Regions from separate parts of the Homo sapiens genome. Here regions 1 and 2 are each linked to region 3. The links come from fine-mapping of genetic effects on gene expression. A gene starts in region 3. Each other region holds a variant in brackets. All regions are shown on one strand. Distances are between the middles of the regions. Region 1 holds the start of SLC6A12 (solute carrier family 6 member 12). Region 2 overlaps CCDC77 (coiled-coil domain containing 77). Region 3 holds the start of SLC6A13 (solute carrier family 6 member 13).

Evidence for each region. PIP is the estimated chance that this variant, and not a neighbour inherited with it, causes the effect. A credible set is the group of variants that fine-mapping cannot tell apart.
Region 1: its variant is the best candidate, but not a certain one, in a credible set for the expression of SLC6A13 in thyroid (GTEx, PIP 0.62).
Region 2: its variant is the best candidate, but not a certain one, in a credible set for the expression of SLC6A13 in whole blood (TOPMed, PIP 0.62).

Annotation. Positions count from the first base shown.
Region 1 is chr12:212,215-214,972 of GRCh38, forward strand. It overlaps SLC6A12 (solute carrier family 6 member 12), which reads right to left and starts at 1,943. Exons shown (of 16, transcript NM_001122848.3): 1 at 1,708-1,943. RefSeq lists enhancers at 1-280, 292-341, 1,053-1,824. The variant G/A (reference allele first, on the strand shown) is at 1,257.
Region 2 is chr12:408,432-411,189 of GRCh38, forward strand. It overlaps CCDC77 (coiled-coil domain containing 77), which reads left to right. Exons shown (of 13, transcript NM_032358.4): 3 at 937-990. The coding sequence starts at 953. Among named protein-coding and RNA genes, the nearest start is that of CCDC77, 8.2 kb to the left of the region's middle. The variant A/G (reference allele first, on the strand shown) is at 1,198.
Region 3 is chr12:261,227-263,984 of GRCh38, forward strand. It overlaps SLC6A13 (solute carrier family 6 member 13), which reads right to left and starts at 1,610. Exons shown (of 15, transcript NM_016615.5): 1 at 1,563-1,610.

The DNA of each region.
Region 1 (2,758 bases), 49 kb before region 3:
CATAGCGTTGCTAATCCCAGGGCGAGCCCCAAGCACAAGGGCCCTTAGGGCGGTGGTCAGAAATGAGCCTTACTGTTTCCAGACCACAGGCAGCTGTGGCAGGACCAAGGTGGTCTCAAGGGCTGGGAGAGTGGAGGCTTGCTGGGGGAAGGAGTAAATGAAGGGAAAGCCGGAGGGGCGCAGGGGCAGGGAAGCGAATCACAGAATCCAGTTTGGGCCCAGGATTTGGGTTTCATCAGAAATAGGGGAAGTGCAAAAAGAGAACATGAGCTGGTGAACCGACACTGACGCAACATGATTTTTTAAAAATAAAAATGAAAATAAAAAAGTAATCGGGAGGAGCGTAACTTGTGGTTCAGAATGAAAATCCAGAACGGCAGAATGAAAGCAAGAGCAAGTGAAAAGGACAGCTGGCCCCGAGCCGTGGTAACTCAAGAGGGAACACGCTTAAACTGCAGCAAGAGGGATTTAAGTTAGACTCAGGGAAGAAATGGCCCAGAGGATGTTAGACACCAAAACAAGCTGTACTGAGTTCTCCTTTCTGGGCTACTTTTAAAAGGCAAAGGACTACACACCCCACCCCCGCTGTGCCCTTCCACCTCCAGCTTCGGCTGGCCGCCTCTCCAGCCCCTCGAGTCTCCTCCAAGGCCGCCCACCTGCTTTGCTAAGCCGGGACAGGGGGGTGAGGGGTGGGGGATGGGCCTCATCATACTTCAGTGCCCTCCAGAAGCAAACACACCAATTTCCACACCGGGCTTGGTGCTGCCCAGAGAGCAAATCTTCAAGAGACTAGAAAGTCCAAAGTTAAGTCTGTTTTCAGGAGCTGGGCATGTCGCCAGAGGCCCAGCTGGGGCTAGCAGAGGTGCAGACGAGACCAGAAATGCTGCTGCCCATGTGCTGCTGGGATCCCAGCTCTGTCCCCTTTGCTCCCCAGTCCAGCATAGGAATAGCTCAGACCCTGCACACGGGGGGATGGGACACCCAGCCCCTGCTTCAGTCCACACCCACATACCAACACCCATTCCCATACACACACTGGTGCCATTTCCCGTCACGTCCCTTCGCACACACATACCTGTGTGCATGGCACCAAAACCTGGCTCTCTCTGTAGTCCTTCACACCCCGTGAGTGCCGGTCTCAGCTGGTGGCTGCCTGCAACTCCCCTGAGTGCCCCCCTCGGGTACAAGCACACCCATAGCATCCACCGCCCAAAGCCAAGACAGCTTCCTCCTGGGAGGCGCCTGGCACCCAGCTC[G/A]TCACGCTCAGCCGGCAGGCAGCGGGCAGGAACCCCTCACCTGTGATCATTTATTGCAGTTCCTGGGCCCTCGGGAATGCCCCGAGGTTTCTCCTGTCCACTTCTCCTTCCACCTTGCTGGGCACCACCTGCTTCCCCTCCCCTCGTCAGATGACCACCCCTGCTTTCACCCACTGCCGTGACCAGCTGCCCATCGCTGGACTTTCCTGCTCCACAGGCTAATCACTGAGCTGCTCCCACGCTGGATGGGGCGGAGCTAGGGGGCACCCCTTGTCCTGAGAGTCGTGGGCATCAGACTTGCCCTTTGGCCTGAGGTTATTGCAGGTCCTGCCCCCCGCTGCAGACACGCAGTTCCACAGAGTCTCGCTTCCCAGGGCTCTATCCCTCCAGCCCCTCTGAGCAGCAGTTGGAGACTGCAAAGACAGAGCCAGCCCCTCCACTTCCCGCTCACCTCAGTCCCCAGCACCGGCTCCTGTGGTCAGCTTGGCTGTGGGCATCAGGTCTCCAGGAGAGTCCCAAGGCAGCTGCTTATGGGAAAGCCAAGAGAGCCGGGACCTGAAAGGGAAACTGCCCTCCACGTTCACGCCTTACCCTGTTCCTCCCAGCGCAGAATCCCATGTGACTTGTCCAGGGACTCCCAGACAGAAAGAAGCCGTGTGTGTATGTGTTGGGGCGGGGGCTGTGTGTGTTGGGGAGTGAAAGGACAGAGAAATACCAGGAGCAGCAGGAGGGACTGAGGCCAAAAGTTTGTGAACCGAGATTACAACATCCAACCTCAGGAAGTCAAGTCCTCTGTCCCCAGCGCTCCCACCCCCATCCCACTCCCACTGTGAACCCACTGTCTCCAGACCGGTGCCCTCCCCGTGGGCACAGTCCCATGATGGCCCCTCCAGAGCTGGGCTGAGCTGCTGCTCCCTTGGGCAGGGGAAGGGGCTCAGAGACTCACACCCTGACCTCATCTCCCCTCCTCCTCCTCCTTGCCCTTCCCCCTTCCCCCTTTTCCCCTATCCCCCTCCAGAACCATCTCCTTCCCAGGGATGAGGAGACGGGTATGTGCAGCACAGGGGACAGCCCTCTCTTACCAGAGACTCCAGGCTATAAACTGAGAACCTTGGGAGGGGAGGTGACCTCACTGACGAGGGCAAGGGAGGAGGGTGAATCACACGCTGGAGTTTTCCACCAAGTACCTGCCCTCTGTGGCTTCTAGGCAAGGCCCTGGACCTTCACAACCCTTCTCCTTGGGATTTTCCTAGAGAAAGCACCCAGAGCGTACCTCAAGAAGCAATGTAGAGAGGACCCAGGATTGGGACCAGACAGACCTGAGTTTCTTCTCCTCCTCTATCATGTATCAGTCACGACAGCTAGGCAAGGGTCAGCCTTGGTTTCCCAGTCTGTCAAAGGTAGGTAACAACACAATATCTACTTTGCGGGGTTGCTGTGAGGGTGCAGGGATATCATAGGTGCTTAAGGGGAGGTGTGGGTGTTTGTTGTGTGTCCTCTGG
Region 2 (2,758 bases), 150 kb after region 3:
AGAGAAAGTACGCGAAATAAAGATAGCATCAGTGGCTTTATATTCATTTTAAATTTGATATAGTGGGTACTCTGCCTTAATTTCTATTTACTACTTCTGCTTTTGGAGAGGGGAGTGGGGGCAGGGGAAGTCAATATGTTGGTGAGGCTGGCCTTGAACTCCTGGGCTCAAGGGATCCTCCCTCCTCAGCCTCCTGAGTAGCAGGGACTATAGGTACGGGCCACTGCACCTCGCTCTATGTACTGTTTCTTGCTTATTAGAGACTTTTCTGCATCTTCTCCTCCTATCCTATAACTTCAAGGAAAAGATTGTAGATTTGTTTTTGTGTTGTTGCAGATAACAAGGAGACTTTTCTACTTTGTGTGCTTATCCATTTAAATATTCAATGCCATTCTGATTTTTATTTGAAAATAATTATGAGGAGTACCTTTTGAAAATTCAAAAGGCATGAATTTCAGGATTTGGAGATACTTTAAAGAATACTACATTTTAGGCCGGGCGTGGTGGCTCACGCCTGTAATCCCAGCACTTTGGGAGGCCGAGGCAGGTGGATCACAAGGTCAGGAGTTCGAGACCAGCCTGGCCAATATGGTGAAACCCTGTCTCTACTAAAAATAACAAAAATTCGCCAGGCGTAGTGGTGCACACCTGTAGTCCCAGCTACTTGGAAGGCTGAGGCAGGAGAATCGCTTGAACCCAGAAGGCAGAGGTTGCAGTGAGCCGAGATCACACCACTGCACTCCAGCTCCAGCCTGGGCAACAGAGTGAGACACTGTCTCAAAAAAAAAAAAAAGAAAAAAAAAACTACATTTTAAAACATCAGATTCTTTCCAAGAAGCAAATATGATGATGTTGAAGAGGGAACCAGTCTAATCCTGTACTGTTTTTATTTTTCTATTCGTGGCCCGTAATTATGAATTTTTGTGTATTTGATAGGTGTGAAAAAGACAGCATGAACTTTACCCCAACACACACCCCTGTCTGCAGAAAGTAAGACATTTGCTTATTTTCAAGTTGTTAAGAAATCGAGACTTGTATAGCCTTAGTCTAAGCATAGGAACTGGAAAGGTATTGGAAACATATTTCCTAAAGTTTTTTTTCTTTGAGACAGAGTTTCACTCTGTGCCCAGGATGGGGTGCAGTGGTGCAATCATTGCTCATTGCAGCCTTGACCTCCTGCACTCAAGCAATCCTCCC[A/G]CCTCAGCCTCCCAGAGTGCTGTGATTACAGGCATAAGCCACTGTGCCCAGCCTGAGACATCCCCTTTAGAAAATATGAAATGTTGGCCGGGCACGGTGGCTCACTCCTGTAATCCCAGCACTTTGGGAGGCTGAGGTGGGCAGGTCACAAGGTCAGGCGTTTGAGACCAGCCTGGCCAACATGGTGAAACTCCGTCTCTACTAAAAAAAAAAAAAAAAATTAACTGGGCATGGTGGTGTGCACCTGTAATCTCAGCTACTTGGGAGGCGGAGGCAGGAGAATTGCTTGAACCCAGTTGGTGGAGGTTGCAGTGAGCTCAGATCACGCCACTGCACTCCAGCCTGGGCAACAGAGCAAGACTCCATCTCAAAAAAAAAAAAAAAGAAATGTTAAGTAAACTAGTATTTCTCTCACAAGTTTTTAATCACTGGGAAAATGTTTAAGTTTTTCTTCATGCTAGTTGACAGATTTTAATATCTCTGCATGCTTATTTATTACAAGTGAGCACATATATTAACTATAACTCAGAGCTTCTGGTATAGTTTCTCCACTGTACTATTTTGTTATGTTATAAATTGCAGACAACCAAATTGGATTTATTTTCACAGGAGGGTTTCTCTTCTTCTGTACTATTTTTGTTTTTTTTTTGTTTTTTGAGATGGAGTTTTGCTCTTGTTGCCCAGGCTGGAGTGCAATGGCATGATCTTGGCTCACCGCAACGTCTGCCTCCCAGATTCAAGTGATTCTCCTGCCTCAGCCTCCCGAGTAGCTGGGATTACACACGCGTGCCACCAGGCCCGGCTGATTTTTGTATTTTCGGTAGAGACTAGGTTTTGCTGTGTTGGCCAGGTTGGTCTTGAACTCCTGACCTCAAGTAATCTGCCCACCTTGGCCTCCCAAAGTGGTGGGATTACAGGCTAATTTTTGTATTTTTGGTAGAAACTAGGTTCCGCTATGTTGGCCAGGCTGGTCTGGAGTGGCGTGATCTCGGCACTTGAACCTGCCTCCTGCGTTCAAGCAATTATTCTGCCTCAGCCTCCAGAGTAGCTGGGATTACACACGCGTGCCACCAGGCCCGGCTAATTTTTGTATTTTTGGTAGAGACTAGGTTTCACTATGTTGGCCAGGCTGGTCTTGAACTCCTGACCTCAACTAATTTGCCCGCCTTGGCCTCCCAAAGTGGTCGGATTACAGGCATGAGCCACTGCACCCGGCCTGCAATATGTCTTATGGTACTACATTTTCTAATTGTTACTACATGGTCTCCCTTAGTTTATATTCTGTTTTTTTAAATTATCTTTTTCGTCTCTAATGGATTTTATTTTTACTTTAGAGACAAGGTGTTGCTATGTTGCCCAGGCTGGACTGGAACTCCTAGGCTCAAGCGATCCTCCCACCTCAGCCCCCTGAGTAGCTGGGACTGCTCAGCTACTCAGCTGTGCCACCATTCCTGGCTCTAACATGTATTTTGAATCCAGCTTTAAACCATTAGTACTTGGAAGATAATTAATAAAATTATTTACTATCCTGTAATATCAAACTTTCAATTTGTTTTTTTTT
Region 3 (2,758 bases):
CACTTCACATACATTCTTTTCATTTAATTCTCACAACAACCCTGAGATGTAAGCATTATTACCTCCACTTTATAAATAAGGAAGTTGCAGCTCAGAGAGGTTAAATAATGTGACTGCTGCTGCCATATAGCTACTAACTTGCACAGCCAGGACTTAAACCCACTCTGCCCCTGCTCTTTCAGTTCCATCCCTTTGATTACATTGGCTGCCTAGGTTCACTGGTGTGTCTACTAAAAGCATCTTCTAATGACTCTGCCTTGATTTTGCAGAGTGGCCTCTTTTCTGGAGAAGGAGGCAGATGGACTTTTTTCTAAGCCTCAAGCAAAGTTCATGTTAACAGAACTTTCTCAGCAGTAACCTCTTCTGGCCACAGACTCTACTTTGGCTCTGACCCAGAAAATTAGAAAGTCAGTGAACAGGCCGGGTGCAATGGCTCACGCCTGTAATCCCAGCACTTGGGAGGCCGAGGCGGGTGGATCTCCTGAGGTCAGGAGTTTGAGACCAGCCTGGCCAACATGGTGACACCCCGTCTCTACGAAAAGTACAAAAATTAGCTGGGCATGGTGGCAGGCACCTGTAATCCCAGCTACTCAGGAGGCTGAGGCAGGAGAATCGCTTGAAACCAGGAGGCAGAGGTTGCAGTGAGCCGAGATCGCGCCACTGCACTCCAGTCTGGGCAACAAAGCGAGACTCTGTCTCAAAAAAAAGAAAAAAAAAAAAAGTCAGGGAACAGCAGGCATCTATGTTTATCTGATAAATTAGGGAATGAGCTCCTTTCTACAAAGGAGAAACTCAAGTAACTGGTCCCAAGAGGGCTCCTCAGTCCTTTTGGGAAGGTTGTCTAAGGTACTGACTGTGCTGGCCTCCCCTCCCTTTACCAGCTGATGGATCTCTCCCAGTGATGGAAAGCCTTCCCTTCTCCACCCTCCCAGACCCTAGGAGAAACAGTAGCCTTCTCCTGGCTCCCTTAGCCTCATTAGAGCTGCTTCTCAGAGGTAGCATGTTGTGTCTGAAAGGTCATGAGCTGTAGAGTCAGATGAGGCCAGGTTCAAACATTAGTTTTTTCTCATACCAATGTCTGACTTCAGAGAAGTTAATGAATGACTCTGAGCCTTAGTTTGTTCATCTGTAAAAGTGGGGATGATAGATAGGATATACTTAGCTATAAGAATTAAATGAGGAAATATACATATGTATACACACTTAATAGAATAACAGGTACTCAAATTTTTGTTTTCTTTCAGTCCTGTCAGAGTTGATCATTGTTCTCTTTTCTCAGAGAAGAAAGACTTTGTTTTCTTGGAGTTAAATCCAGTTGTCTTTCCTCTCAATCTAGGGCTCTCTCTTTCCAAATCACAGTGTCACTTAAGTCAACAGCCACCCAAGTTTCAGAAAGTCAAGAAAATAGCACATAATCTTTGCATTTGCACACATACATGTCAGAAGCGTACTTTCTAGGCGAGGGTAAGAAAAAAGTCCTTTGGTTGTAAGTCCCATGGATCCCACCAACCTGCAGTCTGAGACGCAGAAATAGAAAAAAAAGAGAAGAAAACATTTCGAACCTTAGTGAAGCTGCTGCCAGAGGTCCAGTCAGGGGAGAAGAATTATCTAAGGGGGAAGGAGAAGGTGCTGGCTATTTAAAGTGTGGTTCCAGAACGCCTCTGTGGCACTTGAAATTCTAAACTTGGCCCAGCCCACATTCCACCCTTGTGCCTCCCCCTCCCCTTTTCTCCCCTCCCCTCCCCTCGGCCACTGGACAACCCACACATGAGTGATTTCGCAGTCTGGGGAGTGTGCACGCCCTGGCAGGTCGGGCCAGTTGCTGGTGAGCTTATGAAGTGTGGTCTCCTCCCCGGAGCTCATGTGCGCTTCCCACCTGGTGAGCTCAGGGTCTCTCTGGAGGGATCCTGCCTCCCACCCCTGTCTCCAACACAAGTGCTCCTATAAATCCATCAAGAATAGGTATTCCTTTGGTCAGGTGCTGTGTAGATTAATTTAAAAATACATTTATCTTACCGTTTCGCAGCTTGCAATGTGGAATGGACGATGATTTAGAACAAAGATACATAGATACAGAACTCTGAGATGTCAGAAAAACTTCCCAAACATACACAGACATTTATACACATATAGAAAAAGTCTGAAAAAATCTTCGCTAAATGATTAATAGTAGTTACATTTGTAGAGTGGAACTGAGATCAGGAGATGGCAGTAAGGGAGATTTTTTCCCCACTTTTTCAATATTGTTTAGATTTTTTAATATGCTAGAATTTTAAAATATTTTTTAAATCAATAGAGAAAAGGAAGTGCCAACGTTTAAAATAAAGCAAAGCCCTAAAGCTGTTATAAGGGAAGGAGCAGGCGGTGAGCGCGAGGCCGAGGTCATCCAGGGAGCTTCGTTTCTCTGCAGGAACAGCCCACAGAGGCGGCTGTGAGAGTAGTTCATTCAGCCTGGAGTCTAGGACAGGGCAGAGTCCCACCTCAGCCATGTGCTGAAGCACAGTACATGTAGTGGAAACCTGCTCAGACTTTGACACCAGAGAGTGTGGGGTCTGAGTCCTACGTATGCCACTGTCTAGCTTGAGATTTCAGGAGATGATGACTAACTGTAAATGGCAGCTGTTATTCATCCTTAAGGGATTATTCACAGTGAGCAGTGAGCCCGGAAGTCTTCTTGAAGGAGACGGGACTGAGAGACCCCTGAGCTAAGCTGGGCTCTGGCCAGACTGTGAGAATGAGTTAGGTAGGGGATGCGGCA